5 separate regions of the Homo sapiens genome follow, and regions 1, 2, 3 and 4 are each linked to region 5. Evidence: fine-mapped expression QTL. A gene starts in region 5. Each other region holds a variant in brackets. All regions are shown on one strand. Distances are between the middles of the regions.

The links.
Region 1: its variant is fine-mapped to the expression of SMIM38 in left ventricle (GTEx, PIP 0.94).
Region 2: its variant is fine-mapped to the expression of SMIM38 in whole blood (TOPMed, PIP above 0.99).
Region 3: its variant is fine-mapped to the expression of SMIM38 in cerebellum (GTEx, PIP above 0.99). The same link has a PIP of 0.9 or more in sigmoid colon.
Region 4: its variant is fine-mapped to the expression of SMIM38 in whole blood (TOPMed, PIP above 0.99).

Annotation. Positions count from the first base shown.
Region 1 is chr11:69,185,939-69,191,037 of GRCh38, reverse strand. No RefSeq gene overlaps it. Among named protein-coding and RNA genes, the nearest start is that of SMIM38, 33 kb to the right of the region's middle. The variant C/T (reference allele first, on the strand shown) is at 2,510.
Region 2 is chr11:69,084,066-69,089,152 of GRCh38, reverse strand. TPCN2 (two pore segment channel 2) reads right to left here. Exons shown (of 25, transcript NM_139075.4): 20 at 3,867-3,943; 21 at 3,401-3,482; 22 at 3,223-3,305; 23 at 2,549-2,630; 24 at 1,947-2,041; 25 at 1-1,278. The coding sequence ends at 1,200. Among named protein-coding and RNA genes, the nearest start is that of MIR3164, 3.4 kb to the right of the region's middle. RefSeq lists a silencer at 261-400 and enhancers at 2,567-3,066, 3,067-3,568. The variant T/C (reference allele first, on the strand shown) is at 2,066.
Region 3 is chr11:69,125,260-69,130,358 of GRCh38, reverse strand. No RefSeq gene overlaps it. Among named protein-coding and RNA genes, the nearest start is that of SMIM38, 28 kb to the left of the region's middle. The variant A/G (reference allele first, on the strand shown) is at 3,074.
Region 4 is chr11:69,101,028-69,106,126 of GRCh38, reverse strand. No RefSeq gene overlaps it. Among named protein-coding and RNA genes, the nearest start is that of MIR3164, 20 kb to the right of the region's middle. RefSeq lists an enhancer at 3,482-3,982. The variant C/G (reference allele first, on the strand shown) is at 2,003.
Region 5 is chr11:69,153,255-69,158,353 of GRCh38, reverse strand. SMIM38 (small integral membrane protein 38) reads right to left here and starts at 2,419. Exons shown (of 3, transcript NM_001369201.2): 1 at 2,240-2,419; 2 at 1-1,180. The coding sequence starts at 507. The coding sequence ends at 352. The region is part of intron 2 of LOC338694 (a long non-coding RNA gene); the gene reads left to right. RefSeq lists silencers at 694-1,053, 4,299-4,593 and an enhancer at 1,938-2,865.

The DNA of each region.
Region 1 (5,099 bases), 33 kb before region 5:
CAGGTGGAAATGGGAGACGACGTCACAAGATTGCCAGGGGACATGAGCCCACATGGCTGGCGCCACCCAGGAACCCTGCCCCTGACGGCCCAGGGAGCAGTGCTGTGTAGTGGTGCCATTTTGCGCCTCTGTCTCTGCAGATGGAGACACTGAGATTCAGAAAGATCTCACCATCTTCCCAACATCACGTGGTTGAACGGGGTTGAAACTCAGCCAAGAACCCACCTTCCAGCCAGGGCTGTGTCCACTGGGAGGACCATTTATTTATTTACTTATTTATTTAGAGACAGGGTCTCACTCAGTCTCCCAGGCTGGAGGGCAGCAGTGCGATCATAGCTCACTGCAGCCTCGAACTGCCAGGCTCAAGCAATCCTCCCACCTCAGCCTCTCGAGTAGCTGGGACCACAGGCGTATGCCACCATACCAGGTTAATTTTTAATTTTTTTGTAGAGATGAAGTCTTGCTATGTTGTCCAGGCAGGTCTTGAACTCCTGGCCTCAAGCAATCCTCCCATCTCAGCCTCCCAAATTGCTGGGATTACAGGTGTGAGCCACCACACTCAGCCTGTCTGTTTTTTTCAAACTAAGTTTTCTATTAAAAACTCCATTCAATGAAAAGTTTCTTTAATACATCAATTTTATTATTATTTTGTTTATGTCTGCAAACTACTATGGTAAACAACATGAGCCCTCATGGTAGGGACCCAGGAAGGTGCTTGCATTCTTGGGCAAAGTTGTCTCACATGCCTGCCCTGGAACAGGCCGGGAAGACACCACCTTCCAAGATGCCTCTGATGTCCAGTGTCAGGTTCTACCAGGGGCAGGATGGAGTTTAGCCTCTCTCCACTGTCTTGAGACTGCCAGTCCCCAGGCAAGGCCAGAGGGGCAAACTTCAGCCATGGTAGCGGCCAGGCACCATTACTGTCCACCGGGAATCTCCATCTCCGGCCCCCGCCTTCTTTCTACCTGCCCAGGGCTAAAGGACTTTGGAGTCAGGGAGAGGAAGCCTCTGGTAGAGTTTGGGATCATGCAGCCCTGCCTTCTGGCTCTTTAGCTCGATGTTGCCCCAAACCCAAGCTTGGGCACCTGCCTCCATTCTTTCCCCCGCCTCCTGGCCTCATTCATCCAGCACTGACGAGGGCAGTCTTGGGCGCAGAGCAGTGAAGCTGTCCAATGCTGAGGAGACTTGTCACACACCCATTATAGGCCAAAGTTCATTCCAGGTATAAGTCACAACTCCCCTATGAGGCAGAAGCATTCATCTCCTTCTAGAGGTGGGAACACTGAGGGACAGAGAGGTTAAATAACCCAAGGTTACCCAAATATTGGTGCTAGAGACAGGATTCAAGCACAGGCAGTCGGCTCCAGGGCCAGTGGGTTCCTACAGCCCTGTGCTGTCTGTCAACAGTGTTCCAAAAGAGGTCGGAGGGACATCAGCTCTCAAATAAGGCAGGAGAGAAAGAGGCAAATGAAGCAAGAGATAAAATGTGGAGGGTTTGGATGGGATCCTAGGTTTTCCCTCCTGCACCCCCATCCCCAGAAAAGGAAAGAGTTGAACTAAGTGCTAGAGGCCACCTATCCCTGCAGGGAAAATGCTGTCTCCTGATGGGGCCCTACCTCCTGGGGTCTTTGCTGAACAGTCTTCATAATGATGATGACAATGAAGATGACAACAATGGTGACAATGACAATGATAATAATGACAGTGATGACGATGATGGTGGTGGTGATGATGATGATAATGATGATGATGGTAGTGGTGGTGGTGGTAATGATGATAATGATAATGGTGATTATGATGACAATGATGATGATGGTGGTGATGGTGGTGGTGGTGGTGGTGGTGATGATGATGATGACGATGATAATGGTGATGATGACAATGATGATAATGGTGATTATGACGACAATGATGATGATGGTGATTATGATGATGATGGTGATGATGATGATGGTGGTAATGATGGTGACAATGATGATGACAATGGTGGTGATGATGCTGATAACAATGATGCTGATGGCATTACTATTAAATGGCTATGACTGGGGTCCTGGCCCCCATTCCCTCTCACCTATGCAAGACCTTTCTCCTGCAGCTAGGCCCTCTTTTTCTTTGATATTATCTCCTTCTCTCATTCCCAAGAGCACATAGAGGCTGTGTCAGTTGTTATTGCTGCTACAACAAAACACCACAAACTTGGTAGCGTAAAGTAACAGACACTTATCACTCTACAGTCCCAGAGGTCAGGACAGGTCTCACAGGGCTTGAATCCAGGTTCCTTCTGGAGCCTGCGGGTGCAAATCATTTCCTTGCCTTTTCCAGCTTCTGGAGGCCACCAGCATTTCCTGGCTCGTGCCCCTTCTCCATGTTCCAAGCCAGCAACACTGCATCTTTCTGTGCCTTGCCTCCACCATCACAACTCCCTCTGATTCTCCTCTTACTCCCTCTCTTCCACTTTTAAGGACCCTGTGATGACACTGGGCCAAGCTGGATGATTCAGGATGGTCTC[C/T]CTATCTTGAGGCCTGCTGATTATTAGCCTTAATTCCATCTGTGACTTTAATTCCCCTTTGTCCTGTAACCTAACATGTTCACAAATTTCAGGGATTAGGATGAAGACATTTTTGGGGGCCACTATTCTGCCTTCCACACACAAACGGTGATATGGTTTGACTGTATGTCCACCCAAATCTCATCTTGAATTGTAATTCCCATAATTCCTGTAGCTTCCATAATTCCCACTTATCATGGGAGGGATCTGGTGGGAGGTAATTGAATCATACGGGTGGGTCTTTCCCATGCTGTTCTCGTGACTGTGAATAAGTCTCCTGAGATCTGATGGTTTTATAAAGGGGAGTTCCCCTACACATGCTGTCTTGCCTACTGCCATGTAAGACGTGATTTTGCTCCTTGTTCACCTTCAGCCATGATTGTGAGGCCTCCCCAGCCATGTGGGACTGTGAGCCAATTAAACCTCTTTCCTTCATAAATCACTCAGTCTCAGATACGTCTTTATTAGCAGCATGTGTTCTGGTTATTCTGTTTGAATAACACTGCCCCAAGATGGAGTCACTCAAAACAACAATCATCATTTGTTATCTCTCATGGCTTCTGCCGGTCAAGCAGGCACAGCGGGGATGGTTTCTCTCCACCCAGTGACATCTGGGGCCTCAGCTGGGGTGGCTCAGAGGCTAGAGACAGAACCACCTGAAGGCTCATTCACCTTCATGTCTGCCAGTTGAGGCTGATGTCAGCTGCGGGCCTGGCAAGGGCTGCTGGCCAGAACCACACATGGCCTCTCCATGTGGCTTGGGCTTCCTCACAACATGGAGGATGAATTCCAAGAAAGAGAGAGTCAAATGAAAGCCATATTGCCTTTTCAGCCCTCAACTCAGGAGCCACAGGGCGTCACTCCTGCCATATACTCTGTCAGCGTACAGGTCTGCACAAGCTCAGGGACAGGGTCACTCTTCCTCTCAAAGGGAGAGTGTCGACCTTACTTTGTAAGAAGAGCAGGTGGAATGGGAGATATACAGGGGGCATCATCTTTGGGACCTGCCATCTTCCCTAGCACCTCAGACTGAGCCTGAGCCAGGCAGAACCCTTGAATTTTTCCCCAGACATGGCGGTCCCCTTGCTAGATAATGGCATCCCCATCCTCATGGTATTTCAGGGCAAAAGTCTGGGCATTGTCTAGAGGGTGGCAGGCCATGCAGGTCAGACACTGGAGGGACCTGGGCCACGAAGCCTGGCAGTTGGAGACCCTTCTGTTGGTTCTCACTGTGGGAAGTCACGAAGACCCCGCAGATCCTGGGCAGCTGTATGACCTGGGCAAGCTGGCGGGAAGCGACAGCTCCACAGACTCCGAGACAGAGAGGCTGCAATACTCCTCCGCCCGATTGCCTCATCCCCCAAAGGGCTTTGATAAATGGAGAGATAGGCCCGCTAATTCTTGGGTGCTGCAGGGGGAGGATGTCCTGTCACCACTAAAACGGGCCCGGACTCCTTATCATGCTGTCACTCTGCAAATCACCAAAGACAGGCTTACGTCACCCCCTCAGAGGGGCTTCAGAGGGGCCTCTAATCCTAATGGATTTGCCCAAGTGGAGATAAAGAACCTTCTTGTTCCTCCCATAATGCAGTAATTCACTTTACAAATAGAGCCAAGGAGAGTGGTTGGGAGTGGGGGCTGGTCAGCCACTCAAAGGGCCAGTTTTCCCGGGCAGGGGATGACATTCTGGAACATTCTGCGCAGGAAGGCTGATAGCACCAATCCAGGGGTGGCAGGGATGACTTCCCTGGGGATGCCAGGGTCATGAAAATGGGGCTCTCAGACCTGAGTTCAAAACTGAACTCTCACTACATATCAGCTGTGCCATCGTGAATGTATTGCTTAGCCACTCTTAGCCTCAATTTGCTTATCTGTAACACAGGATAATCAGTGTAGCCATCTTCAAACACTGCTGTGAGACTGAAATGTGGTCCAACGCAAGGCACAGGGCACAGGGGAGGGTGCACATAAAAGGTTTCTGTTCCTATTGACAAGGCTGCTGTGATCGCTGGTGACCAAGAGTGGAGAATACAATGGCACTAGGGCTGCCAGCAGGGGAGCCATAGCCCTGGGTTCACATCCCAGCACGACCACTTACTGGCTGGGAAGCTGGGGTGTGTTCACCTCTCCTGCCTCAAATCTCTCTATGGCAACCTGGGTGGTGTTCATTATTCTGAAATATTGGAATGATCAATAATCCAATTTTGGCTTAACCAATAATTCTGAAAATATACAGAAGCGATGTGAAATTAAGGGGATTAAATGAGGGGAGGCATGTGAAAAGTGGGTGCCAGTCCTTGAAGGATGGGGGCAGCTGTTCTGCATGGTCACGAAGGTTAGGAGGACAGGGTCCACCCCACCCTATGGGAGGGAGGCAAAGCGTCCTGGTTGGAATCTACCCCCAACTCCAGTAAAGTGGATTCCCTGGGCAGGGGATGCTGAGAGGGTGGGGTGAAGCCAGGCGCCAAGGAGCCTGGAGCTTACACAACTGGACAGGGGCTCTTTAAGAAAAATAAGGCCGGGTGTAGTGGCTCATGCCTGTAATCCCAGC
Region 2 (5,087 bases), 69 kb after region 5:
GCCCCCTCCCCCACCATCCCACAGGGGCTATGGCGTGGGCTCAGCACCTCTGAAGGAAAAGCAGATGAAAGAACTTGTGCCTCCCAGGCGAGAATGCACAGTGCAGGGGCAACCCTGGCAGGGCCCATCCCTTCCTGGTCCCGCTGAGCTCGGGCACAGACCGGGCACCAGGCTCGGTGTGGAGTGTGATGGGGAGTGGTGTCCCCGGAGTTGTTTCTGGGAGTTGCTGGGTCCACCTTACCTTAAATGTAGTCAACCAAGTCCCATCCCACCACTAGATGGCACCCAAACCTCAGCAGAAAGGGGGCGTGGGTTGGCCCCTGAAGTGAGAAAACCATTGGTCAATCTGGACCTGGCGTGCTTCAGGTGACAACAAGGCTTTCCACACACTGCTCGCTCGCCCCACCTCCCCACCCCAGGCCCCCTGCCACACACCTGAAGACACAGGAAATAAGGTCACCCATTGGCTTATACATGCCTTTGAGCAAAACAGAAAAGGTGCCCCTCACTGCAGGTAGACAGCCCCCCGCCAGGATACACCTCACAGCCATGTGCCCTTGTGCAATGCACAACCCAAGCAACCTTACTCAACAACCCTACTCCAGAGAAGCAGGACTAGAACTGTGCTGAAGTGAAGAATGACAATCCCATTCTTTGCAAGACTTATTGATGAAAATAACTGGCAATCAGAACCCTAAAGAAACACACCCAGTCACACTCATACAAGCCATGAAATAATAAAACACAGTCAAGGTTCTCTCCATGTCAAACCACCAGCATCCCCACCTGAATGCCCCGGAAGTCTGACGGTTAACCTGTGCAGGCCCTGGTCAGGCCTGTGGTCCCCAAGGGCTGCCGGCAGCAAAGGCACCACGGAAGCTGCAGGGGACAGGGGAGGCCGCTGCTTCTTGCATTTTTGTCTGAAAGGTCCCTGTGGAGTCGACGAGGGAATTCTCACTGAAGCAGCTATAAAAGAAAGCGGAGGGCACGGCGCCTCCCTGAAGCACCAGCAGCTGTTCTGTAGATGGTTGTTGGGCCACACGCAAAGGACTTGGTTCCTGTCCCCAGCTTAGTGGTCCGTCAGAGGAAAGGTCTCTTCCTGCCTGGCTGGCCACAGCATGGCCGCCTCTTCCATGACGGGCACCTGTGTAGGCCAGCCTCTCTCTCCTGCCGCCCCTGCTGGGACGGCAGCCCGGACGTCACCTGCACAGCCACAGGTGCGGGTGCTGGCTCAGCCTCTCTGTGAGCTCATCCTCCCCGGGCTCCTCCAGAATATCCCTGTGGAATTGAGGAAAGATGCACACAGGGGCCTCTAAAGGAGGGAGACCCTGGCCTGCCCACAAGAACAAGGGAGCAGAGCTTAGCAACACATGCGAAGTGAGTGTCACAGGGACACAGAGACACGGGGACTCAGATGAGCCTCAGGATGGATGTAGCCACTAGAAATATCTACACGGCATTCTTAAAAGCCCAGGGGCCACGTCTTCCCACTGGCTGGCAGGACCGCAGGGCTTGGCTGCAGCAACTCGGCAGCCCCTGGTGGAAGGCACAGAGGCCCCACAGCAGGGCTGCCTCTGGGTGGTCACTTTTCTGGACTAGCAGAGGAACCATCTCAAAGCTGCCAGGAGAAGAGATGGGTGCGTTTTCCTCAGGTCCCTTGTTTACATCCAACAGGATCCAATGGACCCTGAAGGATGGTGCCTTAAATATGCCCAATCCAAGAGCAGGAGAGCAGGACAAAGGCTATGACGCCAGTGGCAGGAAGAAGAAGCCGCCCCGATCCCGGCTCTGAGCTGCTCTCCTAGAGCACAGGACCAAAGCCAGATAACCGGGCGGAGGGGGAGGACAGTCATCAGGGCCTGCCCGCCGCCTCAACCCCTCCACCCCCCAGCTCTTGGCTTCCCATCCCAGGGGGCCAGACAGAAGCGCCTTCCCCACCCACACACCTGAACAGGAGCTCCACAGTCATCTGGTAGGTGGCCTCTGGGGTCCCAGCAAGGGGCTGCAGGTGGCTGCGGGGGTCCCACTTGTGAAGGAAGTTCTGGCAAGCAGGAGGAGTGGCCAG[T/C]GAGTGTGGGCCCCGAATGAAAGCAGCCTTGCCCCATCCCCGGCCCCTCCAGGGTCAGCCACAGGGCACCCGCTGAGGGGGCTGAGCCATTCACCCTGGACACCCAGGCACAGGCCCCACGAGGCTGCTGGCTCCTCCTGGAGCCAATGTCCAAGTCCCTCCTTCAGCCCGACCTGGGGGCCTGAGAATCCCCACAGCCCAGATGTCAGGAGCACCCCCCAAGGCCCCAGCAGCCCAGATGTCAGGAGCACCCCCCAAGGCCCCAGCAGCCCAGATGTCAGGAGCACTCCCCAAGGCCCCAGCAGCCAGGGCGGGCAGCACTGAGCCCCACGGGAGGGGCTCAGCCTCACTCAGGACCCGCCTAACCCAGCACGACTCTCCCATCAAAGTTCCAGGCAGGCCCGGCCGGTGGCCTCAGGCCCATCGAGAGTGAATTAGAAACAAACGACCATGGAGAACAGCCTGGGTGGGGATCTCTGATACCTCCAGAATCAGGGCCAGAAACAGGTTGACCCAGATGACAGACGACACCAGCCACCACAATACAAAATAGATCTTGGACCACCTGCGGAGGACAGAGACCCACCCTGTGAACCACGATGAGCAAAGCAAGAGCACTCGATACAAACACCACTGCTGCGTGGCCAGGACAGCTCTCGGGCAGCCGGCCCACACACACCATGATGCAGAGCGCGTTACTATTTCCATCTCAGAAACAACCCAACTGAGGCCTAGAAACGTGCAACAAGCTGCCGAGGTAGCTAAGCCAGCAGGAGGCGGTGCTGGGATTAAAACCCAGGACCATCAGCTGGGGCCAGTCTGAGCTCTTCAAGCTCAGAGCTGAACTATCTCGTTCACTCAGCCTTCCCGGGGCTCCCCCACCCCCATGGAATTCCTCAGAAGCCCCAAACACACCAACGACCTCCAGGAGGTGTAAACCCAGAGTCACTGGCCACCATCCTGAGAGTCACGATGTGGCTATGCAGGGGGCAGGGACAAGGCAAGCCAGGATGCCACGCTGGCCGACTTCCCTGTCAAGGCCCGAGTCCCCGTCCCAGCCACGCTCCGGGCGTCCAGTGCAGATGCAGCGTGCCCGGAGGTGAGGGAACCCCCAGGCTGCACGGAGAATCACTGCCGTCAGGGAGACGAGGACTCACGGGCCTGAGTAGCGCCGATATGCATCCAGAAACACCTGCCAGTTGTTCACCACCATCAAGTTCCACAGAGTGACCAGGGCAGCCTGCGGGGGCAGAGACCAGCGGTCCAGGAGGGCCCAGGAGGTAGGGAGGGGAGGAGCCCGGGGAGCAGGGTGCTGGGACAGGGCGCAGGGCTCACCGCAAAGTCATCGAAGTTGTTGGCCCAGTACTCCAGCTGCTCGAAGCTCCCACAGGGCGCCGAGCCATTGGCAGGGGCCAGGCTGGGGAACACAACACACCTGGGTCAGGGGCGGGGGCTCCAGGTTCTGAGGCCTGATACCTTACACCCCTTTCCTCTGCTGGCGTGCTCAGCCTGGCCTGAAGGTACAAATTGGGATACAGAGGCTCAGAGGGCAGGGAAAGTGCTGCTCTGAGCAGGCCACGAGAAATGTGTTTAGCAGACTCCAGGCAAGGGCTCCTAGGAGAGGTGCGGAGCGGAGGTGGAAATTGGGGGTCGGGAAAAGGGGGTGGAGGGAGGAGACGAAGGAACTGGGAGAACACCCTCCCATCCTGAGATGCTGAGCCCACTGAGGCCACCGCCAAGGCTTCCCGCCCACCCCAGCACCCCTGAGACACTCCCTGTGGCACCTCGGACCCCACCTCACCTGCTGTTTCCAGGAAGAGCCACAATGACGCCTCTAAACAAGTTGATCCCAATGATGGCAAATACGTAGTAGACCACCTGGCGGGCCAGGAGCCGGGGACTGATCAGCCCCACCCATGGGTGCACCCACCACCACCCTCCCCAGACAGAACCGCAAAGCCAGAGGATGACTGTGAGGCCAGGACCCTCTGCCCAGGGCTGGGATTCCAGCCTGGCTGCTACTTCAAAACACACGCAGCTGGCCTCCCCCAGGGCTGGCGGGTCCACAGACACAGTGGGGCTCAGGCAGGCGTGGTCATGGAGCTCCTAAGGGAATTAGGGCCCTGCCCCCAGGTACCCTGGCAGCCACAGTTAGGGGACAGGCTGCCCGCCAACCCCAGGCCTGTCCCTAACATGCGTCAGCAGAGTGGAAGGGGTACACGCCTGGGCTAACCTGGTCCCCTTTCTGGGCCTCAGTTTCCTCTGCTGTGCAAGTTAGGGGGCTGGGCAGACAGCACCTGAGGCAAGATTCTCTTCCCAGCGTCTATTTCCAGAGGCGCGAGGCACAGCTGGGGTCCAGCCCAGAGCACCCTGCGGCCCCAGAGACACCTTCTCACCCCAGTGGTCCCTACGTCAAGGTGGTCAGAATAAAATGGCAAAACTGCCTGAAGTGTGGCCGGGCTTCCTGCAAAGGGCGCCTCCTGTCACTCTGCACGGCGCGGATCTGGGGCCTGCCTGGTCACAGGCCCCTCTCCTGCCCAAGCCCGGCCACCAGGCAGAGCAGATGGGCTCCTCAGCTGGAAGGCTGGCCCCCAGGGAGGGGCCGGGGCGTCCCACAGTTCTCGCTCAGCAAATGTGGCTGTGAGTCCCTGAAATTCCTCTAAGAAAGGAGCCTCGACCAAGTCCTCATCCCAGGGCTTGTGCAGGCTTTGGGGTCCCTGGAGCAAAGCCCTGCGCCTCTTAAATTTCTGTCATTACTTTCTCAACGAGATCCACAACCCAGAAAACACGAGAGACTCAAAAATTACCAAACAGTCTCTGCCATGGGAGGGAAGGATGCTCAGGCAGGGCCACCAGCCACACCACCCGAGCTCCCTGCTGTACAAAGAAGGGGATGCCTCTGGCTTCTTACCCCGACCCTGTACTTCCCTGGCCTCAGGAACCTGCTGCCGTCCGAACCCAAGAACCTTCCTACCGACAGAGCAGTGAGCCGGCCCGGCACTGCCTTCCGCCAGCCTCCCAG
Region 3 (5,099 bases), 28 kb after region 5:
TCTGTCATCCAGGCTGGAGTGCAGCAGCACAATCTCAGCTCACTGCGGCCTTGAACCTCCCAGGGTTCAAGCAATTCTCCCATCTCAGCCTCCCTAGTAGCCAGGACCACAGGCATACACCACCACACCTGGCTAATTTTTGTATTTTTTGTAGAGAGATGGTCTCACTATGCTGCCCAGGCTGGTCTCAAACTCCTGGCCACATGTGATCCACCTGCCTAGCCCTCCCAAAGTGCTGAGACTGCAGGTATAAGCCACTGCACCCTGCAAAGAATTCTATTGATCTAACTATGCCGGAGTAGAGACAGATCAATATTATACATTGTATTATTTCCTGGGCCCGCCATAACCAATTACCACAGGTGGCTCAGAATTGTGGGAATTATTCTCTCACAGCTCTGGAGGCAGAAATCCAAACTCAAGGTGTCGGCTGGGCTGGGTCCGCTGAAGGCTCTCAGGGAGGGTCCTTCCTTGCCCCTGCCAGCTTCTGCTGGTTCCTGGCGTTCCCTGGCTTATGGCCGCATCCCCCCAACCTCTGCTTCCATCGGCACATGGTCTTCCCGGCCTGTGTCTCTGGATCTCTTCTTCTTATGAGGATACCAGCCATGGGGTCAGGGCCCACCCTGCTCCAGAACTACCCCCTCTTCACTTGACTACATCTGCAAAGACCCTATCTCCAAAGAAGGTCATATTCTGAGGCTCCAAGTGGATGTGAATTTTGTGGGGATTTTTTTTTTAGTTAACACATAATAACGTACATATTCATAGGGCACATGTGATATTTCAATACATGTATATGATCCCATTTCAACAAGTAACGATCACAGCAGGTGACTGGTATGTCCATCGCCGCAAACATGTATCTCTTCTTTACGTTGGGAACATTCTGATTCTTCTCTTCTAGCTATTTTGAAATATATAATAAATTATTAACTGTAGTCCCCCTACTGTGCCATAGAACACTAGAGCTCATTCCTTCTGCCCAACTGTAATTTTGTACCCATTTACCAATCTCTCCCTATTCCCCTCTCCCCGTCACCCTTCCCATTCCCTGGTCCCCAGGCTCATCCACTTTTCCTCAAATGACAGAATTGCATTCTTTTTTATGGCCGTATAGTATTCCATTATGTATTTGCACTTCATTTTCTTTATGCATTCATCCATTGATGGGCACATAGGTTGATTCCATCTCTTAGCTATTGTGACTACCACTACAGTGAGAATGTGGGTGCAGATGTCTCTTTCACATGCTGATCTCCTAGTCTTTGTATACATACCCACTAGCAGAATTGCTGGGTCATATGGTAGTTCTGCTTTTAATTTTTGGAGGAATTTCCATACTGTTGTCCATAATGGCTGCACTATTCTAAATTCCCACTAAGAGTGTATAAGAGTTACTTTTCCCTGTATCCTCACCAGCATTTGTTGTTTGGTTGTTTTTGTCTTTTTGATAATTTTATTTCTATTTTAAGTGGGATGAGATATCTCACTGTGGTTTTGTTTTCTGTTTTTTGTTTTTGTTTTTGTTTTTGTGATGAAGTCTCGCTCTGTCACCCAGGCTGGAGTGCACTGCCACGATCTCCACTCACTGCAACCTCCACCTCCTGGGTTCAAGCAATCCTTCCACCTCAGCTGGAATTACAGGCATGCATGACAATGCCCAGCTATTTTGTGTATTTTTAGTAGAGACAGGTTTCACCATGTTGGCCAGGCTGGTCTCAAACTCCTGACCTCAAGTGATCCACTCGCCTCGGCCTCCCAAAGTACTGGGATTACAGGTGTAAGCCACCACGCCCAGCCCTCATTGTGGTTTTAATTTACATTTCTCTGATGATCAGTGATGTTGAGCATTTTTTTCATATACTTGTTGGCCCTTTGTATGTCTTCTTTTGAGAAATGTCTATTTAGAATACTTGCCCATTTTTAAATCTTATTTGGATTTTTTGCTGTTGAGTTGTTCAAGTTCTTTATATGCTTTTGTTGCCAGGGCTTTTGAAATCTCAGCCATAAAATCTTTGCCCAGACCAATAGCCTGAAGTGTTTCCCCTATGCTTTCTTCTAGTAGTTTCATAATAAGTCTTTAATCCATTTTGAGCTTTTTGTGTGTATCGTGTAAGGTATGGGTCCAACTTCATTCTTTTGCATGTGAATATCCAGTTTTTCCAGCACCATTTATTAGAAACTGTCCTTTCCCCAACACATGTTCTTGGTGCCTTTGTTGAAAATCAAGTGGCTATTAATGCATGGATTTGCATCTGGACCCTCTATTGTGGTCCATGTGTCTATGTGTCTGTTTTTAGCCAGTACCATGCTGTTTTGGTTACTATAGCTTTGTAGTATATTTTGAAGTCAGGTAGTGTGATGCCTCCAGTTTTGTTCTTTTAGCACCAGATTGCTTTGGCTATTGGGGTGTTTTGTGGTTCCATATGACTTTCAGGATTGTTTTTTTTCTATTTCTGTGAAGAATGTCATTGCTATTTTGATAGGGATTGCACTGAATCTGTAGATCACTTTAGGTCATATGTGGGGACATTATTAACCATCATTTCTTCAACCTAAAAGTTCATTTCTTTCTTTTGATTTTAAAAGACATTAAAACATCACTGTGGGTCCCTGCAAGTATCATGGGCCCAGGCGCAGTGTGTCCTGGAGGTGCCACCCCATCTCCATCCACCCCAGCACCTGGCACATTCTCCCGGCACACAGTAGGTGCGCACCAGGCTGCCTTCCTGCAGGGGTCCCAGCAGCTAGAGAGAGGTCAGCTCGCCTGTGCTTTCTGCTCCCCCTCCCCAGTTATCACCTGTGCCTCCTCCTGGGTGCTGGGTGGATAATGTTCTTTGCTGTAATCTGCTCCTTCCGAGGGTGCCTTCCCACTGGCCGCCCTGCACAAACAGCCCCACTCTGGCTGCCACCCGCCCGGCTCCAGACTCCTGATATGAATGCAAAGGTTAGATATTCTTGACACCGCTTTAATTTTTCAAATAGCAAGCCAGTTACCAAGCACGTTGGCACCTGGGCTCGGTTCCCCCACGACTTGGCAGGGCCCACGCAAGCTGCTGGCAGTGATGGATGC[A/G]TGCCCCTCGGCACACCCCCCCCCCACCCACCCACCCGGCCGCAGCCACGCCAGCCCCAGGACCTCACGCAGCCAGTCCCCGGCAGCTGTAAGGCCCGAGTGCCAAGACACAGAGTGGGCTTTTCCAAGCGCCGGGATCCGGCTGGGCGGGCTTCCCAGCACGGCCTCTGGGAAATGTGTGCAAGGCCTCCGTCAATCTGTAGGGACTAAGCTGCTAGGAGGGCCTGGGGCTGAGCGATTTCATGTTTTTTCCCACCCACCTGGCCTCACCCTCCCTCAGCCTCCTCGCCAAAACAAAATCACTTTAAAAATAAAAAGTAACAGGCAATGCAGAGGCTCTCAGAGCTGGATGGAACTTAGCCATCAGAGGGTCCCATTCACTCATGGTACAGTTGGAGACACTGAAGCTGCAACCAGGAGGCTGAACAGCCAAGACTAGAGCCAGGGTTTTGGCTATCAGAGGGGACAGTCGCTCAGCAGTTCTCAGGAGCATGCGAGCCAGGCAGCCGGTCCGATTCCTAGCTCTGCCACTCGTGAGCTCTGCAACTCCGGGCAAATCTCTTCACCTCTCTGTGCCTCAGTCTCCCCATCCACAGAGTACAACCCACACAGGACCTGCCTCTCAGGCTATTGTCAGGACGACGGTGTCATCAGCATATGGGGAGAGGTGGGCCTCAAGCAAGGCTGGACAGTCGCCGCATGGGGTACAGAACCCTGGAATGGTAGGGTCCCTGAGGAAGGTCAGAGTCAGACCCCTGCGGCAGGTGAGACACAAAGGCCATTCCGGACCGCACTCCACAGTGAGGCCAGCACCCGCATCCATGCACCAGGCCACCAAGAAGGGCCGTCTGTCCGCCAGGCACCGTCTGGTGCTGCTAGGTCTCTGGGAAGGACTCCAGCTCCTGACTTATGGGCACTGGCAAGTACTAGGTAGACAGACTGGAGCTCGAGGGGACATCAGAGCCCTCTGGACAGGCCCAGAGAGGGGCTGCATGTGGCCCAAAGCACCCAGCCCAAGGACTCAGACCCCACCAGGTTGTGTGCCCTCCTCAACCTCATAGCAGATAGGGCTCTGAGGCAAAGCCCCTCCCCTGCCTGCCTCCCTTTTGAGAAGCCTGAAGCCCCATCTGATCAGCCCTCGAATGTCCACTAAATGCCTCTAAACAGGAGGTGGGGTTCAGCCTCTCACAGACAAGTGTGCCTGAGAGCCTCAGGTGAGCCAGGGGCCACTCAGCAGAGGCACAGGCTGGAGGGACAGGGCCCTGGACAGGTGCAGTTTGATGAGGGTAGAAGGACACAGATGACGCCTGGGCCAGCGTCACCCACACACCAGCCCCTGGCCACACAGCTGCTGATCACTCTGTACATGGCTGGTGAGACTCATAAACTGTGGGGGTTTTTTTTAAATATATTTAATTTTAATTATTTTACATTTAAAAACTGAAGCAATAATTGGATTATTTGTAACTCAGAGGATAAATGTTTGTGGGATGGATACCCCATTCCCCAGGACGTGCTGATTTCACACTGCATGCCTGTATCCAAACATCTCATGGACCCCACAGGTACATACACCTACTACAGACCTGCAGAAAAATTCATTAAATTTAATTTTTAAAAACTGAAGCCATGTGGGCCAGGCGCAGTGGCCCACGCCTGTGATCCCAACACTTTGGGAGGCCAAGGCAGGCAGATCACTAGGTCAGGAGTTCGAGACCAGCCTGACCAACATAGTGAAACCCTGTCTCTACTAAAAACACAAAAATTAGCTGGGCGTGGTGGTGTGCACCTGTAATCCCAGCTACTCAGGAGGCTGAGGCAGGAGAATCGCTTGAACCCGGGAGGTGGAGGTTGTAGTGAGCCAAGATTGTGCCACTGCACTCCAGCCTAAGCGACAGAGTGATACTCCTTCTCAAAAAAAAAAAATTAAAAATACTGAAGCCATGTGAAATAGCCTCTTGTTCAACACAACTTTATTGTCTAGGTAGGACATTCAACATGTAGTGTCTGAAGTAAGAGGTGCTCT
Region 4 (5,099 bases), 52 kb after region 5:
ATTAAAGATAATCATCCTGGCTGAACAGGACAAAAATAGATTAAGTCCCTTCTGAACTCTGAGAGCAGGATACGTGGCCCAGCAGAGCATCACTAAACCAAGGCGGGTGGCAGCGGGGAAAGACTCCACGGCTTTCCCTTGGGTTTCACCACTTGGAGAAGCTTCCCAGTCGGCTGGCGTGGAAGCCCAGCTCCTCACCCCACCCCAAGCACAGGGCAGGCGCTGAGCCCCGGGCTGGCAGAGGTAGGGAGTGGGCTGCAGGCACGGGGCGGGGAGGGGGCCTCCGGAGCTGCACACAGGAATGTCAGGGCCTGGCTTAATTTCTAAACCTGCCATATGGCCCTGCGTCCTGGGACCCAGGCTGGTGGCCAAGGAGGAGCCCTGGGGCTCGGTCCACAGCCCTCCAGGCCGGCTGCACAAAGCCATTTTTCAAAGGTGTTTCCCAACAGTCTCTCTCAAAGGAACTGCCCTTTGAGAAGCTGTCTTGGGCTCGAGCCAGGCAGGGCTGTCTGGGGGCTCTTGGCAAACGTGCCAGCCGTCCCCAGATCAAAAGTGCCTTTCTTGGTTTGCTCACTGCCTCTCTGTGCCAGGTGAATGAGCTGTGGGGGCACCCCGGGCCGGGCAAGGCCAGAGTTGTCTTACCCAGACTCAAAGATGGGGGTGGGGGCTGACCACAGGTGCGGTGTGCCCCACCAATCCATGGAAACCCCAACCCACGGGGCAATGGCTCACGTTACAAAAGATCCATGGAGGGGCCCCTTCAAACCGAAGCTCCCCAAGGACGTGGCACTGTTGCTCAGGGATCATTCGCCATGTGACACAGAGAGGCCCAGACCAAGGAAATGTAAGGCCAGAGGGCTCACAGGCCCTGCCAGCTGACGTGGCCTCAGTCTAGACAGAGAGACAGGCAAAGTGGGCACGACGGGGGTCTGTGAAACCAACCCAACCTTCATTCACCCACCACGGGACCCTCCCTTCTGGGCAGAGACAGGTGCTTTCGACCCAGCAGGTGGGCGCTGACAGCTCCACTGCCACACAAGCCCCTGGCATCTTCTCGCTGCAGACACACTTGGTGGCAAGTGCTTGCGTGTGGACGCTGCGTGGCCCGATGTCCCATCGGTCAGTGTCCAAGAGGAAGGCTCTGGGATGCCGCTTACTCAGAGAGCCCTGCACGCACCACTCCCAGCTTCACCTGTGCTGCCAGGCTGGGACCAAGTCCACCTTGGAGATGTGGCTGGCAACTGTCATCGCTACCAGGTCCATCTCGCCGCCACTCACTCCCCACCGCCCTCCAATAATGCCAACAAAACTCACAGTGGAGCCAGGGTCTCGGGGGAAAGAAGAAAGATCTGCAAGAGCCTCCCCGACCATCTCCAGATGCCTGAGCCCCAGAGCTGACTTGCACGGAGGCTGATCTGCATCGAAGGCTGGCCCCGGGCCAGGCACCTGGGAGGGCTTTGGGCCCATCTCCCACCTGTCCTCGCCTTAAGCCAACAGGGCAGGAACTGTGGTTATTCCCGTTCTGCAGATGAGGCACCCAAGGCACAAGGAGTCTGTGCAGCCAGCGGGTGGAGGAGAAGCTGGGGCCACCCCCGGAACATTTCTGAGGACACCATTCCTGGCCCTGTACAAACCGACTCTGTCATCTCCATTCGCTACAGAGAACCAGCAACTGATGCCAGTGCAGTGCAGAGAAATAACGGGCCCATTTTACAGATGTGGAAACTAAAGTTCAGGCAGGTCCAATAATTTGCCCAAACACCAAACAGCTGCAAATGGCAAGGCTGGGATCAGAAGGAAGACTGGATGCTAGAGCCTCCCTGGCCCCCATCCCTTCATTCCTGATACCTGCACCCCACTCTCTGGCCTTCACCCCTCCCAATGCCTAGCATGCGGCCATTCAAAGCAATGCTGGGTTCCGCCCCTCACCGTAAAAATCAAAAAGCTGCCTGCTCGTGAATGCTTGTGAGAGAGAAAACACCTGGAAAGGTAGAATCAGGTG[C/G]TCCTAAAATTCACATCCACTTGGAATCTCAGATGTGACTTTACTTGGAAATAGGGTTTCTGCAGATGTAATAAGTTGAGGTTATACTGGAGCAGGGAAGGCCCTGAATCCAATACAATCGGTGTCCTTATAAGTAGAGAGAAATGTGGACACAGACACACAGGGGAGAAGACACATGAAGGGGGAGACAGAGACTGGAACGATGCAGCCACAAGCCAAGGAACACCAGAGCCGCAAAAAGCCAGGAGCAGCAAGGAGGGACGCTTCCCTAGGGCCTTCAGAGGGTGCCCAGTCCTGCTGGCACCTGCACCTGGGACTTCTGGCCTCCAGAACTGCAACACAGCACATCTCCATGGTCTAAAGCCACTCAGGCTGTGGTACTTTGCACAGCAGCCCCAGAAAATCAGCACAGCACCCAGCACCCTGCATCTGGGGGTCAGCTCCCACCTGTTCCTACCACATTATTGGCCAACTGAGGATGGGAGTTGAATTTTGTTCTGGAACAAATAATAATAATAAATGCCAGAACTCGCCACCCCTGTGCTCGGGTCCCCACAGCCTGGAAGTGTGGCCTCTCTGGAAAGCATTCCTGCTTGCCCCAGCCAAGTGGGTGGCCCCTCTGTAACCTCTACCAGATTCACTTTTCCCCCATGTCTCCCGTCCAGCCCGGAGTCCGCCTCCCGGGGCCACTGCCCCCATGCAGGATGGAGCAGAGCTCGCCATCCTGCCTGCCCCATGGTCATGTGGAGTCGCTGCCTTTCAGTTATACGGCAGGACTACTTGCCAGGTGGAAAGTGGGACCATCGGCCCTGGCGCCGCCAAACACATTCTTGGCAACTGAAACAAATGCCAGAGGTAGATGAGCCAGGCAAGACTGCCTCCCAGAGGGGGCACACTGCCGGGCCTGCGAACCCTTCATCAAACCCCAAGGAGCCGGTGAACGTTTGATGAGGGTCCTGGGGTCTCAGGCCCTTCTGCCTGGGCCAGTCTCATGTCCCGCTCGAGTGACGTGGGTCAGCAGTTTCCCTCCAGCCCAGCCATGGCCATCGTTGCCCACCTGCCACCTCTCAAGGGAGGAGGGCCCCCACTCCTCCTTCCCAGCTCTACTGAGAGGTCTCCTTGCCTCCAGCCACAGAGCCCCTGATGCACCCCTTCCTCCTGGCCAGAGCACAGGCTGTGCACCGCCTGTCCCCACAGCTGAGCTAATACCGCCACCTTTGGGCACTCAGACTGAGGCAATATCCCCCACCCGTGTTCTCCTGTCTTCACTGGGTGACTTCTAACCTCAGACAGTTCCCAAAACAAATGCAATCCCTTTTGCCTGTCAGAGTGGCCAACACCACCCTGGTTTCTGGAGGCAGCCAGCCCAGGTGTACTCAGGGGCAGGCGTGTTCCAGGATGTTCTGAGCCCCAGCTCCCTCCTCTGTAAGTCAGAAGTGAGGATGCATGAGTATGCACAGCACACTTCCACACAGTGTTCCCGCTGTGGCCACCGACGGAGGTCCAGGGTCCCCCAGGCTCTGCTCTGATGCTGGCCCAGCACCCAGAGTTTTCCTTGACCATTTTTCCAGGGCTGTGCCAGAGGCTGGGTGGGCTATGCCAAGGAGAAAAAGCAGGGAGGGGGCGTGGGCAGAGCTGATGGACAGGCAGGGCACCCGGGGCCCAAGCCACTGCTGCACTCAAGGAACAGACATTGGGGTGACCTCAGCAATTGCCTGGATGTCTGGGCCTCAGTTTCCCCTCTCAGTCCTCCCTGCCCTGTCCACTTCCAGGAGAAGGGGCTGTGCAGTGCGGGGGGAAAGGTGGAGCTGTCCAACTTGGCCTCTGACAGCTCCCAACCTATTTCCCCTTCTGGGACTTTGGCCCTGTCTGCAAAGCGTGACCCCCCTCACCAGTGGCCCACTGCATCCCCAGACACAGAGCCTCTTTTCTTTGCCCCAGTGAAGGCTGAAAATGGCCTTTCCCTAAGCGCACTCACCAGCAAGGGGTGACTGCAAGAGCCTCCTGGAGACCCGGATTTCTGGGGAAATGAGGTGGAATGAGTCGCATACCCACAGAAGCGCAGGGTCTTTTGAGCACCTCACATGCCCGGGGGCACTGACGTGGCCCACCCGGGGAGAAGGGAGTCTGAGTGTCCCCACAGTGGCTGGCAGGTGGACAGACCCAGGGGATGCTCCAGCCCCACCCAGCGGGAACCCCACAGCCAGAGAGGGCCCCATCAGTACCCTGCACTCCAGGTGGCCGGCTGGCCTGGTGGTGGGAGCCAGCAGCCCACCTCATCACACCCTCTCCCCACTAAAAGCACGCTACCCTCTCTCCTGGCTAGAATCTAACAAGTGTTGGTTGTCACTGCCACCACACAGATTCCCCTAGGGTCTCTTAGGCAAGGGTTGTAAGGTTCCCAGCACAGGCCCAGGAAGGCTGCCAGGAGGAGGAGGAGCTCCTGCCAGGAGGGGACTCCCCCTGCCTTCCCAGGCCTGGTGCTGAGCGAGGCAAGGAGGGTACCAGGGCCTGGGCACTGGGTCGCCTGCCGCTAGGCTCTGCTGCCCTCCGCTGGCTTACCCAGGAACTGCGTGTGCCCAGGGCAGCATCTCCAGGTGTGTCTAGCCTGCCTACCTACTCTACCTGGCCATGCCTCTGGACATGCAGGGCCTCTGTCGCAGGCCCTCACCTGTATGCAAATTATGCTCTGAGGGCATCTTGTAGGTTACAAGCCTCCGGTACCCAGGCCCAGCTGGGACGGGCTCAGTCATGCCTGCCCTCATCTGCTAGGTCTACGATGCTCCTTCCCTGGTGCACACTGGGGGTGGCGATCGCTATTCAACACCATCTGGGGCTTCTTCAAAAGGTGATGACGTCACCCCTGAGACAAGGTGGGCATTGGGACCCAGCACCGATGTGGGACCCAGAGGTAGGAGGCTCGCAGCCCTGCCAGGAGCCCCCTCTGCTCACTTCCACCTCATCTCACACACCAGGAACCTGAGGCCAGTGGAGAAGGGGCCACAGTGCCTGTGCCCACAGAGCTGGGCTCATATCCAAGACTGTGTCCCCTCCAAGCCCAGCTCATCACTCTCTGCCCTGCCAGTGATTGACAAAC
Region 5 (5,099 bases):
TCCTCTGGCTTACCCAGCTCTTCCTGCAGGCATATTTATAAGGAATTGGAGGCAGAGAAGGTCTTAAAGCAAGACCCACCCCCAGGACCACTCCCTGCAACCGGGGACCCCAGAACCTGGTGATGGACCTGCAAGGCCGGCCCCTCCATCTCCCCACATGGCCAGCTGCCTCTACGGGACAGCCCTGGTCAGTCTGGGAAGGCACGATCCATCTCAGGCCTCTCTGAGCTCCTGCCCCAGGGGTGGGACATGGGGATCATGCGCCTGCCCTGCTCCCCTCCCTCCCACCACCACTGGAAGGGCCGGCTGAGTCTCGGGACAGGGCGCGTGGAGGCCGCAGCCTGCAGAGGCTTAGTCCTGCTTGGGTTTCTGGGGCCGCCGCTGGGCCAGTCTGTAGTCGATGTAGGTCCCGAGGCAGGACCACAGGATGAGGCGTGCTAGCAGGATCACCACCAGCAGGGCCAGGAGCGGGTCAGGGCCAAAGCTGCCACCTGGCCAGGAGGTCATGCCTGAAGTCAGCCCCAAAGGGCAGCAGCAGCCTCTGCCCTGGAACCGAGATGCAGTGGGGCCCTGCCACCCTAGCCCGGCACTGCCAAGTGGCTGCTGTGCAGACCCAGGACAGGAAGCTCCGTCCAGCCTGGGGCCTCTGCAGCCGGCGCCCCCAAGGGACCGCCCTGTTCTCTCTGGTGCCACCAAGCAGGCCAGATCTGCCCGCCAGACTCCAGCCCGGGGCCTCCCTGGCATGTGAGAGGACAGACTGGGGACGACGAGCAGCCTCCTTGGTCAAGAGGCCCGTGTACCATTCATCCAGAATTAACCACTCTCCGTGCTGACAATGACAGCATTGTCCAGGGGCCTGGGGGGCGGGAGGCCGCCGGGAGCCCGCCCCCCTCGCTGTCCCCGCGCCCCCTGCTCGCCAGCGCTGACGTAATCTGCAAACATCCCCGGCGGCAGCTGCTGGGCGAAGCGGCCACCTCCTCCCGACGCTTTCAGCAGCCCACGCGGCTCTTCCGGCCCCGCCAGACAATTGGGCCCTTTCTCTCCCCAATTAGCTATCACTTCTGGAGGCCGCGCCGTCCAGCGCCGGCCCACGGTCTCCGCAGCAGCAGGCCCGGGATGGGGCGGGGGCCGGGAAGCTTGGCAGGGAGGCTGGGGCCACCACGGGGAAGAAGGACGGAGCCTGAGGATGAAAAGCCAAGGAGAAAAGGGGAGAAGATGAGGACAGGCGGCCACAGCCCACAGGCGGCCCCAAACACAGCTCAGCAGCACAAGGACCGCGCTCTGGGCCTCTGATGGCAAGGGGGTCAGCGCGGGAAACCGGCTTCATCCCCCAGGAAGGGGACCGGTGGACCCCCAGCAGCACCTCCCTCCAGCTCGCCCCTCCAACCTCCATCAAGAAGCCTTAGGTGGGACCTGTAGCCCTAAGCTGGGGCGCACAGGCCTGCAGGGTCCCCTGACATCCTCACAGTCACCCTGGACCGGAGGCCAGTCCTGCCTTCTACTAGCTGAGTGACCTCGGGCAAGTTGTGCAACCTCTCAGAGCCGCAGATCCTGCCTTAGAAAGTGAAGCAAATACCTCCTGCTTTGAAGGATTAGGGGAGAGAGCACTTCTCAGGGGCCACGCCCAGCGCCTGGGCACAGAGATCCTGGCCCCTGCCTCTCAGTGGATGCCTTCAGAAAGGCCTCCACATCTTTTCTGAAATAACAGTGTCTGCCCAGCCTTCTCTGACTGCCACACGCGCGCACACACACACACACACACGCATACACATGTATACATGTGTGTGCACACAGACTCACACGTGTGCACACCCAATAAGGACACATTGACCTCTACAGGCTCTGCCCCCCAAGTCCAGCTCTGGCCTCTCACAGCCGAGTTTCTGTGAGTGAGAGATAAACCGCCAGAACTGCCCCCTCTAACTCCAAGCCTACATCCTGTAAAGCAAAGGGGCCCCAGTTGGAGCTAGGGGGCTGAGCGTGAGGAACAGAGGTCTCTGGCGGCTGGGTCCTGGGAGTCCGGCCAGTTCTCACCAGCAAATGTCCAGCCTGAGCTACAGAGAACAGCAATGGGGGCCTTCCTGGCCACAGGGATCTGGGGCCCATCGCTGGTCGCCGGAAGCCAGCTCTTCAGTTCCTTCCCAGTCTACAAAATGAGTGTCCTCCCTGCCAAGCCTTTCCAGAAGGTTCAAACGGGACCACACGTTCAAACGGGAAGTGGAGCATGATGCCAACTCACCTTGGGCCGGGCACCGCCTAAGCTGCCTTCCCGCAGCCACCCTGGAGCCCCTGCCTGGACTGGCAGAGGCTGTCTGGGAAGCATGCCTGGCCCTTCCTCCATCTGTGGTGTGCCCTGCACCCACTGGGCTGCCTGGCACTGCTGTCAAAGGCCACTCACTTAGGGAACGTTGAGCTCTGGGCTTGTTTTCCACGCGCAGCGGTTTGAAGATCACTTCGAACGTGGGTGGGGAGTTAGCTCTCTGGACCCCGTCATAGAGTAAGTCATCGATAGAGCATTTGCTTGATGGGGACTTCCAGAAGGCCAGGGAAAGTCCTGCCGACTTCCTGGGGAAGCCCATCCGCACGTGGGGTGAGGGTCCCCAGATGGGAGCAGCTGTGTATGCAGGGAGGGGGCAGAGGCTGCTGCCAATGGGCATGTCCCTTACCTGAAAGGGCCACCTCTCCAGGTGACATGTCCTGGGGGAGCCGGGGCCGTCTGCTCCGGCCAGAGGCGCTCAGCTCAGGCCACACCAGGCAGGGCACCTCCCAACCTGGACAGGTGGGGACCAAGGTGGCCTTGGACAAAACTCTCTGTGTTTGCCAAGCACCCAATCGGACACAGAGAGTCAACCACACCCCAGTCACATGGTGTCCACACGCAGGGGTCAAGGAGGCCCGGCCCCTCCCCCTCAGACGTCCCTGGGCCTCTGGGAGTCAGCAAGGACGAGGACGGCATGCCCTTCGAGACAGGAAGGGAGTGACCTCCTCCCAGCGGCATCCAGGCTCGGCTTCTCCGGAGAGGAGAGGGGGCTACTTGCTGGATAAAGCGGCCGGGGCCACAGAGAAAAAGCAAGTGACCATGAGCACGTTGCAGACACAGTGCACCGACAGCATTGCAGCACGGGGACTGTGAGACCTCCCATTCTCGGGGGAAACTCCCCAAGTCCCCCCACCATCAGCAGTGATGTGACTGGGGCGGCGACCTGTGCTGGGAGCCTCCACCAGCTCCTGCGCCTCAGGCCCTGCTGCCCTGCACCTTCGCTTCCAGTAGGACCCTTCTCCAGGGCATTCTGGGCCACAGGAGCCACCCCAGTGCACAGAGACCCGAAGGCCCAGGAAGTTCCCTCCCCCAGGCAGCCCTTAACCTAAGGCTGACCTGGGCAGGACGTAGCCCAGCTTCCCTGCTTTGGACCAGGACAAACTAGAGGCCACTCTGAACCCCCAGAGCTCCCCCTGAAAATCCCAGGGACGTGCGGCTGTGCCTGGAGTCGCCCCCTTCCCAGACTGCTCCCCTTCATCTTGCCCTCCCTGCTCCTCCCTCCTGTGTCTCCCCATCACACCACCCCCCGAGTTACCCGCCTGTGAATATAATCCAGGATAAGAGTGACGAGCGCCTCATCAGCGCAGACCCAGACCCCGCCAATGGGAACGCATGGAGCTGGGCGGTGGTGGCTCCCAGCCCCGGGCCTCTGAGGATGGATCCGGGGATGCTCCCAGCCCCGGGCCTCTGAGGATGGATCCGGGGATGCTCCCAGCCCCGGGCCTCTGAGGATGGATCTGGGGATGCAAGTTGCCATCGGGACCTCAAAGAGCCAAGGCATCTTCCTGCACCCAAATGTTCAACGCTGACAGAGCAGTGAGTGACGCACCCTCACTCACTGTTTCCTGATGAAATGCTTGGCAGAGGAAACCTCTCCACAGGTGAGCTCCGTGGGGAAGGCCTGGAGTGGAAGTAACAAGGAGGTGCAAGTTCTTGCCCCCAAAGCCTGGTCCCCGCCCAGGACCAGCCCTCAGTACAGGTGACAGCCTGGGACAGAGCCCCAAGAACCTTGTGAACAGCTTCCTGTGAGCCCCAGGCAAGCTGGTCTCCACTGAAGCATCACTGGGCCTCAGTTTCCTCCCCTCAATAAAAGGGGAAAATAATCCTAGCACTTTGGGAGGCCGACGTGAGAAGGTTCAGGAGTTCGAGGCCAACCTGGGCAACATGACAAAACCCCATCTCTACAAAAAAAAAAAAAATACAAAAATTAGCTGGATGTGGTGGTGCACACTCGTTGTCCCACCTAGCTAGGAGGCTGAGGCAGGAGGATCACTTGAACCTGGGAGGCAGAGGTTGCAGTGAGCCATGATCAAGCTACTGTACTCCAGCCTGGGCAACACCTTATCTCAAAAAAAAAAAAAAAAAAAAAAAACGGTGAGGGGATGATAATCCCTTCCCAGCTTCTGCAAGCAAGGCTGGGGATAAGAGTGCTTTGCAGGGGAAATCCCCGCCCAAATGTCATCGAGATGAGCTGGACTTGGCTGACTCAAATGCAGGACCCAGGAATAATACTGAACGCCCTCCCCCAGGGACCACCAGGCACATCCCCCAGGGCCTCAGTGTGTTGGTTGGTTTTGTTATTTTCATAGCACCAACATCCTCTGAACTCTTCCATGTGTTTCTAGAACTCGAGCTCTCGCCGAATCCCCCAGGACTTAGCACAGTTCCAGGCACCCAGAAGACTCTCAGCAAGGACGGCCACGTGCATTGGAGCTGGGAGGCCAAATTAAAAGAAGCACGTGTTTTCCTTAGAACAGATTCCGCCAAAATTGTAAAACCACCACCTACAGCCTTGTTGACAGTGAGACATTCTCAGACATGTCAGGGTCCTGTTGAAAATCATTTTTTTCTTTGTTTCTTTTTGCAACAGCAAAATATGCTTGCTTTAACCAAAAAAAAAAAAAAAAGCAACCATGGCAGAGATGGGTGAGTTGGGAGAGCATGAACATCATCAACTCTTACTCCTGCCAAGACGGAGCACAGGACATGAGGACCCCGTCCAGGGCCCACGGGGAGCCTGAGTTCCCACCCCACGAAGGCCTGTGGCCCATCACCTCTT